Regions from separate parts of the Homo sapiens genome. Here region 2 is reported to be linked to region 1. The links are microRNA targets in miRTarBase. Many come from high-throughput screens and were not tested one by one. Region 1 holds a microRNA gene; the other region holds the end of a gene's coding sequence.

Region 1 (5,273 bases):
ACTTTTCCTGTCAAAACACAGTGAAAAAGCTTAATGGAAAAAAATGTCCTTCCTATCTCCATGCCAGGCACAGTGTAAGATCCACAAACTTAAAAGCCAGGAAAATATTCTTTTATGTGCCCCAAAGCTGGGCAAGTGACCTAGTACTACAAAAATTCCCAAATAGGCATGTGACCTGACTAATGTGTGCTGTGAGATGAGTCAAGAAAAATGGAACCATCTGTACTTTTATTGGACAGTCAAATAATTTCTTTCTGTCCACCCAAAAACATAATTTCTATGTTAAGAGTGATACAAGGAGACTTTTAGAAAGTCTAATTTTTAAAATCAGAGATATTAAAATATATGAAAAGTATAACCTATTAAACACTGGTGGAGATAAGCAAATAGGCTTATGAAATCATTATTGCTTTAAAAATTTGTTACCTACTCATTGTGTACTAAGGCTTCTCTACGACATACAGAAGAGGCCGGTGCGGTGGCTCACGCCTGTAATCCCAGCATTTCGAGAGGCTGAGGCAGGTGGATCATGAGGTCAGGAGTTCAAGACCAGCCTGGCCAAGATGGGGAAACCCCGTCTCTACTGAAAATACAAAAAAAAAAAAAATTAGCTGGGCATGGTGGTGGGCACCTGTAATCCCAGCTACTCTGGAGGCTGAGGCAGAGAACTGCTTGAACCTTGGAGGCGGAGGTTGCAGCAAGCCAAGATTGCCCCACTGCACTCCAGCCTGGGTGACAGAGCAAGACTGTAAAAAAAAAAAAAAAGAAAAGAAAAAAAGACATACAGAAGGAAATCAGGGAAAATGGGAAAATGAAGGGAATTAACAAATTGCAATAATCTTTAAGAAGTAGAGTATGAACAATTTTCCTTTTCTAGGATGAAAGCTACCAACAACTGAACTCTTAGAGTGAGTGATGGCAGAAAAAAATAGCAATCAAGAATAGGGGCATGTTAGTTTTTAGACATGTTTACAAAACTCTGCCTTTTATTTCTTAAACCCATAGGTCAACCACCCATCATACCTACATTACCCCATATGACAAGTGGATTTGTTGTATGTTTCAAGTTTTTAATCTTGGTGGGAAGGGGGAGGGCAGAGAAGTATTTATTGGTAAAATATCATAATAAAGGTTGAGCCTGTCAATGATTGTACCTAACAATAATAAATATGTGTAGGAAGTAAGAACGGCAAAAATGAAGCCGGGTAGGATACTGTGGATATGGTGACAGACAAGTATCTATACGAAATCCTGAGATATTTGTCCTCCATTTCATAAATTAAAGTGCCCCCTCTTTTGCTTTACAGATAAGGAAACTGAGGTGCATTATAATAGCAACAGCAGCTGATGTGTAGTAGATCCATACCACAAGCCAGGTACGATGTCAAACATTTAAATGTATCATTTAATTTAATTTTCATAGATCTCCTACAAGACAAGTGCTATTATTTTCATTTTACATACGAGAAAACTAAAGCTGACAGAGATTAAATAACTTGTCCAAGGTTGCATAGTAACTAAGTGAAAGAGCCAAGATATGAACTCAGATCTGTCTGATTTCAAAACCCAGGCCCTTAAACACTAGGCCAGTGGTTTTTTAACCCTGATTGCACATTAGAAGCACCTGGCAAGCTTTTAAAACCTACTGATACTCAGACCCTACCCCAGAACAATTAAATCAGAATTTCTTGTACCTGGGCCCTGATGTGGGTGTTTGTTTCAAAGCCTTTCTGGGTGACTGTAACATATAGCTTGGGTAAAGAAGAATTGTTGGGTGTCTCCCATGGAGGTCAGTATATCTGTGCCAATATGTGAGGTAGTACAAGACTCAAGTGTCCTCAGTCTGTCTGCAGTGGTTTTTCCCTTGCCCCATCATGTTCACTTTGACATCTTTTTTTTATTATGATTTTTGGAGAAGTAATATACAAGTGACAATTTTTTTACAAAGCATTGTCACAGCAGAACATGGTCATAAGTCCATCAAAGAGAAACCTGTTCATATCTATGTACAGGCTATGATGAATGAATACAAAGAAGACTATGTTTATTACTCTCATCCCCAAAGGGAAGTATAAAGCTGGCCTTAAAAGCTGTTCATACCAAAGCTAATCACTAAAATTTGGAATGGCTTCCTCCTCTCCTTTCACAAATGCAATAGGGTAGCCACTGGATCTAAGGGGAAAAGATCCAATTACCACTCTTTACAATGCTTTTTCACTTAGGATCTCAAGACGACTGACAGTCATTCAAAACATAAAAGTAAAGTGAAAATATCTCTAGTAGAAGTGAAAAGAAAATGTCTGTAGTAGGAAGAAGGCCTAAATTTGTGTCTATACTCTGCCACTTTACTGCAATGACTTGAGGCCAAAAGTAAAGTGACAGAGTATAGACACAAATTTACTGCCATGACTTGAGCCTTGATTTCCTTTTCTATATGTACTTAAGCCATATCATCCTTAGGGCAGTGATCCAAAAAATGTGGTCCCCATCAGCATCATGTGGAAACATATCAGAAGTGAAATTATCAGTCCCTACCCTAGACTCTGAATCAGAAACTTGGTGAAGGGGCAGTAATCTGTGTCTTACCAAACATTGCAAATAATTCTGACCACCTCCAGCTGACTCTGATGTATCCACCTCCATGGGGTTGTTGTCTAAGAATAAAAGGAGATGGTCCATAAAATTGTTATTTTTTTTACTATCTACTGAAATCAGAAATTTCAAAATTCTCTCACAGAGATATTTTAGAGAAATAATGTTACAGCCTACATTAGTTAGATAATAACCTCATTTCTGAATTTCACTTTGAATGTGTAGACGAGGCACAAGTCAACCAGAGGTTATGCAATTAGCTTGGAGTCAAAGAGAAAGCAAGGAGTAGAGCTGAGAAGGAAACCCCAGTGTGAACTTGATTTTTATTCAATCAAACTGTTAAGGTACCAACCACGCACTTTCATCTATAATCACAATGAACCTTTTAATAAACATGTTTCTATCCTCTTAGCTTAAAAAATATAACAGTAGCTTTTTGGATTTTAAAACAGATTGACTTCTATACTTCTGGGCTAAAGGCAGCTCAAGAGTCAATAAGAATCACAAGCTTTCCACAGTGAGAAGAAAGTGCAATTGCCCAGTCCTCTCTATCTATGAAGTGCAGACAGTATTCCTCTTCCTCACCTCACACTTTCGATTATTGCAATGGTGGAAACCATGATAAATAAAAGCGCTTATCTAGTGGTTTGGTTTTCACTAAAATTACAGACTTCTGTAACATTATTTGGATACCATAAAACACAAACCAAATTTTAGGAGATGCTTTAGGGTGTTTTTTCCCCTGCCCTCCTGTCGGAAGCCCTCTATCTTTTTACTGTAATTTATCTGATATAGCTACCAAGATGCTTGATACTTTTACATGCAAGGGTGCTGAAAAACAAAGAGCGAGGGAATGGGTTGTTAATGAAATTCTCTGATTGTAAAAAGCACTCTGGAATGATCAGGTGGTAAATAATAATAAGAGGAAATAACATAAAGTGCTTAGGTGCTACAGCGATAGTCACCATATAAATGCAGAAGAGATCAGACATGAATAGAATTTGCATTTTATGCAGCTGCTGTGTGTGTATATAGAATATACAGTAGCTAATTTTTCAATAATGCTGGTAAAATATTGTTCAAAATCTATTCTTGCTGTCTTCTCACTTTAAAAGGCATTATATAGAAAAACACCCATCTGTCCTAGTGCAATGGTGAATGTGTGCAAAGAGCCTAGAAAAAGAGCCTCTTTGCATACGTGAAAAAAAAGAACTCAAATAAAAGGAGATAATGAAGAAGAGACAATAGTAACACTATTAGAACAGCTATGCAGACAAGCACAAAGGTGATCTTTGAAAAACATCAGGGATAAATAACTCTGTTAATGTGTGGCAGAGAAACTACAGTTAAGACATACAGTAATATACCAAAAATATAGACATGCTTTTATTTTGTCTACTGGGCTATTGTGATAGTGATGGTTGTTTTTGAATAGAAAGGAAGAAGAGAGTGGGAAGTAGGATTTCGTTGTTTGTTGTTACTGTTGCTGCTCAGTTTAGAACAACAACATCAACTACACACCAGACCCGTCCAACAGTTCCACAAACAATGCTTACCATGAATCTGCCCTCAATTTTCTTGTTGTTATTTTCCCTTAATACTTATTGATAACCCAATGCCCATTCATTAGATATGCTAAATCCTCGTCCATGGTTACTCTCCTTTGGAAGAGACTGAGAAGATGCTAAGAGGGAGTTCCTCTTACACATAAGGGAAGAGTCTGTTTAGGAATCTGAGAAAGCAGAGGCCAGGATAAAGAGACCACTAGTCAATCAATACTAAGCACCGAAGACTGAATCACCCAAAGATACAATTATCTCCCTTCCTTTGTTCTGTCTCTTAGTCAAATAAAGGATTGTTTGTAGAACCTTTTCTGTTCCTGATCTCTAAAAAGCAGGACTGGACTTGCACATCCAACTATAATTCAAAATATCTCACACTTCCAACTTGAAAGAAGACATAAACTGTTTCAAAGAAACTCAGAGAGAGCAAATGCATATTCACAAAACTTACACTTATTCCTAGAATAGGAAAATGGAGAGAGAACTAACCACATAAGAAAGGGCTAATCATAATAATAATAGTAATAATGATGATATCAATCAATACTTTGGATTCTAGAGAATGATTTATCACAAAAATTCACCTGTATTAAGGGAGACTCCAGGACAAGGAGGTCATTAAGCTACATTTCCATCTTCAGGATTCAGCCAAACTCAGACTCTCCGGAAAGCTGTAAATGCTCTCAGAACAGACTTTAGTAATGAGATTGGAATGAACACTGGGCCTATGGCGTAAAAGCATCTCCCTGCCCCTTGTTCTAAAAGTTAACTATTAAACCATGTGCGGTTCATCCTGATTTGGTTTACTCAATTCTAGAAACAAGGACATGCTGATCAGATTGCCCTGGGCAATTGAATACCTACTGAAGCCTTTGGGAAGACAGTGTTCTTCCCACCACCCCTACTTAAAAGGCTTCTGTTACCAGACTATCAATTCTGTGTTACTGGTGAAGGATAGAAAGTATCTTCTTTTGAAGGACAAGTTTTTCACTCACTGAGTTTTCTGCTTTGGGTATATACTCAACATGTTAAGTGCTTAATCTTTTTTCCCCCATTCCCCTTTTTCTACTGTAGTGTGTTTTGTTTGTTTGTTTTTTGTTTTTGTTTTTTTTTAATTAT
Region 2 (5,000 bases), not on the chromosome of region 1:
AGGACAATGCTGGGCAAGGAGCGTGGGGCCTTGGGAATGTGATGACCAGGGTTGAGTAGGTGTGCAGGGCACATTCGAAGGAAGGCATGCAGTTTCCTATGTGTGAACATTTCTTTTCAAGCCTGGGACTTTTTAGAAAGTTTCTGGTGTGCTCATTGTCCATGGTTAGGAAGAACTGTTCCACATACACCTGACATTGGAGTCAGTTTATTGATATGTTTGGAGATTGGCCTTTCAACAGTTTTCATATTTGAAGAATTAGAAATGAAGTCCGTTCAGATTCTCCAAAGAACCTCCAGCCACTGGTGGGGGACATTCTTAATTCACATTCCTATCAGTTGGTATCTCCTGTCCCTGAAGACACTGATGAGGCTTGGGAGGAGAATCCCACCTTTCCCTGCAGGGGGTTAGGCTGGGCAGGGCAGGGAGGTGAGGGCGCTGGTCCAGAACACTGGCAAGGGATGGGAACCTAACTTCTTCTGTGCTTCTGATTTGCCCTTGCAGGTGTTTTTCCAGGTCTGACCACCTGGCCCTGCACATGAAGAGGCACCTCTGAGGGAGCAGAGAGGTGGATCCTGTAGGCTAAAAGGCTTCCAGGCTGAGAGCCGGCCGTGGAAGGAGGGATGCGTGTTCCAGCCAAAGCATGCCGTTCTGCACCCTACCCAGTTGCCTCCAGGGCCTCTCCTTGGAAGGTCTTTTGAGGGCTAAAAAGGTCCTGTAAGAAGCGGCATAGCACCCGTGGTGCATGGTATGTGGGTGACCCTGGACTCGCCACTGGTACCCGCCCTTCCGAGCGGCGCCTAAGCCTTTGCCGTGAGCATGCACACTGAGAATGCTAATGGTTGGGTTGATTGTATGTTGAGGATCTATTACTGACCGTATGATGAGGCCAACTTTTTTTCCTTGTGGTTAGCAAGACTGCAAGAGATGGAAAAAAAGTAGTTTGAATGTTTTGTGTGTAAGGAGTATACCATGAGATGAGATGACCACCAATCATTTCCTTGGGGGGAGGGGGTGTCTGCACCTTAGAAAAAAAAAGAAAAATCAAAAAAACAAAAAAACAAAAACAAAAAAAGAAGGAAAATCTTGGAGGGTGGGCGTGGGAACTCAGGACCCCAGAGTGGCGAGTGGTGTGGGGAGGGAGAGCCTCTCTCCCCCTTTTCTGTGTGAGAGGAACTCTTAGTGTCTGGTGCAGCTATTAAATGTGCAATGTGTCAAGTAGCTTGTTTTACACGCTACAACATAGCTCATTTGTAACCCATTGTATAAGCTGTGTATTTACAAATATAACACAACAATTTAACTTTTCCTTAGAATACAAAAAGTCATGCATGGTCTGGGGAACTATATGCTTTTCCATTTTTAAGTCAGGACTGCAATACTGATTCCAGTTAATGAGCAGCTAAGATCCAATCTGTCTAATACAGTGACCCCCTAGCCATCCGGGCCTGGCAATATACAATTTTTTTTCCCCTCCAAGTTTGTAACACTCCCCTTCCAGAAAGGCATTGTGCAACACAGGATTATTTTTAAATGATTCTGAATTTGAATTAACTTTTTGGAGAATTCTGTGATGCCCTTAGAAGAAATTGGACACGTATTGAGTGTCACAAAGCTGGGGCTGGGAATTGCTGGTCTAATGTTTCATTAGACTTAAGAACCTAAAATTTTTCTCAGTTGGGTGGATAAAACCACTAACGCTTAGAAACTGTTTTCTCATGCAGCTATGTTTCTCTTATTTATGCCTTGAGGACTAATTTCTGGTTTTCTAGCTGTTAATGCACTGTTGACCTTCATAATGGTGCCTTACGCAAGCGATCCCTTCTGTGGGGGTCTCATACAGGGGTGTGGGCGATGCATGCTTTATTAAGGCTCTTGTTTCACCTGGCAGTGTACTGTATCAACGTATAATACAGAAAAAAAATCTCTTTAAGGTCCTCCTTCACAAAGACATAGAGTGAAACTCCCTTTACATGTCAGTATTTGTTCAACACTTTAGGCAACTTGACTGTCAGTGTTAAAATGGAAAACAGGAAAATGGAAAAATCTGACCAATTCTGCCACCTTGAGACTTTCATATAGACCTTGCACAACAATTGTATAGATCACACACCGGCTGTATTTAATATGTAACATTTTCACACATATTAAAGATACAGAAGTATTAAAAAACCCCCAATGTTAATGTATTTGCTTAAAAGGCACAAGTTTCACATATCTGTCTAGCTATCTGTTGGTAATACAGAAAGTATACTACTTTTTTAAAAAAGTGGGCAGAATTCTTGTGTATGTATATTTGTGTGTACAGTATGTGTATGTGTGTATATATATATATTATATATATAGATAATATATAAATATTTTTTTTAAGGAGAAACTAGAATGTTTAGCTAGAAAATTCCACAGCCTGTGAAGAAATATTTCAAAATGGCCATAAAGGAGGTAAAAATGAAAACCATAACCTAACTTTTATAGAGGCTTTATCTTTAATTTAACGATGTGCGGAGGACTTTCTTGCTTGAATCTGTTCCGGGCTGTCTGCTCTGTCCATCAAATGGGCAGGTCTGGAATGGGGCACCTTCGGCCGTTCAGAAGTGGCCTGAACAGAATGCTGGAACCCAGGCTGGACTCGGACACACTAAGGTTTTGATTTTGAATTTCAGCCTTATTAGAAGATCTAACCTAAGAGTAAGCTAACCACAGGGATTCTTTTGTAGAACACTTTTTATGCAGATGAAGCTATTTTTTCCAGCAAGTAGATTCTTCCAGTTTTTCCAAGGAGTAATTTCCCCGAATTGGCATACCACGGCGTGGACAGCTGATATTTCACCCAGCTGCTGGCTTGTGGGTGTGGCTCTTTGCTTTATATATATATACACACATGTGAGTCTGGCTGGGCTGGTATTTTGTTTGATCTTCCTGGAAATGAGCAGTGACTAACGCTCACATAACTGGTTTTTTTTTTATCTGGGCTGATGAATACATTTACCTAAGAAACTCATTTCGTTTTACTTAAGAGGGGAAGTGCAGTTTTCTTTTGGCAGTTCAGAATCCAAGCACTTGATTTGCTGGGTTTGGAAAACTCCTTTTTTGGCCTTCTATGTGCTTAGCCATAACAATTCCATTAAGCAAGAAGGTAAGCAAAAGACAAAAAAAAAAAAAGGAAAAAAAAAAACTTGCACTGGCTTGTCTCACTTACGAAACATGTCGGAGCTGTTTGCCTGGGTGGGGCTGGGTACCGTACCTGTCAATGCCTGTGATTTTCATAATTAGCACGTACATAAAGAAGTACATTCTGTTCAGGTGATAACTGAGCCTCAATCAAGCAGAAACTTTTTGCTTGAAATTAAAAAAAAATTTCTATTAGTGAAATTTCTTTTTTTTTTTTTTTTGGAAGCACCCTGTTATCTAAAGAATCTTTGTAAGATTTTTGTAAAATTTTGTTTTACAAGATTTTATTTGAAATTGTTTTTTGCAAGATTGTTATATTTCTGTATGAATGTATTTTTTATTGGAATAACATAAAAGAATTCTTATCAGCATCTTGAGTCTGGTTGTTTTTTTTGGGGGAAGGGGGTTGTTGGAACAGATTCCTCCTGCATTCATCACCCTGGCTTCCTCCTGGGGGCAAATCTTCATTGAGCAACCCTGAGAACAACTCACCGACCTCAGCCCCTTCCTCTTTCCACAGCCTGTCCTGGGAGCTGGAGAGGATGTCAGCGAGCCTGACATTGCCCTCCCTGAATGCATCAAATACTCTTCTCCAAGGACTGACAAAAACAACCCCCCGGCTGTGGGCACAGTAGGGAACCATGCCGGTTTGATCTTCCATTGCTCAAGCCAGGGAATGCATTGCAGAGGCACCTGCACAACGACAAACTTGAGTGTTTCCCTGCCACTTCTGTGCCTCCACAGCCTGCTCCAGTTCCGCAGCTAGAGCTGGGCCTACCTTCCCCAGCCAGCCCTGCCACACACCTGGCTGAGGCATGTCTGGGAGGGGTGGAGGAGGCAGAGGGACTCCAGGCCAGAGGGCTGTTCTCACAACCTCAGCCCACTCTCAGTCAAGGAGGGCAGAAAATAAAAGATGACATCACTGCCAGAGGAGTTACATCTCTTTTTTTTCTTTTAAGGCCAATAAGATACATTAAATGTAGAGTTTGTTTGAAAATAGGCAGCCTTTTGTTTTTTAGAGCAATGTTTAGCAAGTAATCTCAGCTTTGCTTTACTGTGTGGACCAGGACAATTTGATCCTTGTAGGAGTCCATTTTCAGATTACACTAAGCCAATCAGTAGCAATGGGGTAAATCAATGTGTTTCCGTGGGAACCAGCTTCTTAGTGTGACAACAAGGATATTCTACTTGAGGTGGCTTAAGCGCTCACTCCTCTCCATAGCTCTTCATTTTGCTAAACGTGGGGAATTTACAGTGGTTGCTTTTAATTTTATAATTGGAGAGGGGATGGATGTTAAGATGTGTGCCCAGACTAGGAATGTTCATTAATTTTCTTTCTATAACTGTGGTAAAAATGTCAGCAGTTTGGAGGGAGCTGTGGTAGGGCAGGACGTGGGGAGCAGACGACATTATTGCCGGGATTCGTGGGCGTGTTCTATCCCCAAGCACATGTCAACATGACTCATGGTTGGATTGCCCCGAATGTACAGTCTAAATTTAAAGTCTTGATAGTCATTCGCGGCTACTATTAAGACTTGACCACTTTGTCATGGAAAGACTATGCAGGACAGCTAAGTTATGTTCAAATAAGGCTGTTAGCGCTGCCGTGCAAGGAATCGGCTGCAACCTTAGGGTATTTATAGAAGTATAAAAAATTTCAGTCTGCTTAACAAATTTTTTGAAACCTAGCTAAAAGAAGAAAGGAAATGTTCTAGCTTGAACGAGCTGTGTGCTTTGGACAATTTGCTGAGCTACACCGACCCTCAGTTTGCTTATTGCTAAAATAGGGCTAGGTCACGTGGATCCAGCATTCTCGATAGCACTACAAT

Evidence for each region. Region 1 holds the annotated microRNA hsa-miR-4796-3p (UAAAGUGGCAGAGUAUAGACAC, at 2,327-2,348, opposite strand). A microRNA usually pairs through its seed, bases 2 to 8, with sites in the 3' UTR of a target mRNA and lowers its output. Matches are read on the target gene's strand: a 7mer-m8 pairs with bases 2 to 8, a 7mer-A1 pairs with bases 2 to 7 and ends in A, and an 8mer does both.
Region 2: miRTarBase lists KLF6 as a target of hsa-miR-4796-3p. Seed matches in the 3' UTR shown: 7mer-A1 at 1,992-1,998.

Annotation. Positions count from the first base shown.
Region 1 is chr3:114,741,126-114,746,398 of GRCh38, forward strand. It overlaps MIR4796 (microRNA 4796), which reads right to left and starts at 2,400; the gene lies at 2,320-2,400. All of the region lies in intron 5 of ZBTB20 (zinc finger and BTB domain containing 20), which reads right to left.
Region 2 is chr10:3,775,095-3,780,094 of GRCh38, reverse strand. KLF6 (KLF transcription factor 6) reads left to right here. Exons shown (of 4, transcript NM_001300.6): 4 at 505-4,099. The coding sequence ends at 556. Among named protein-coding and RNA genes, the nearest start is that of KLF6, 7.6 kb to the left of the region's middle.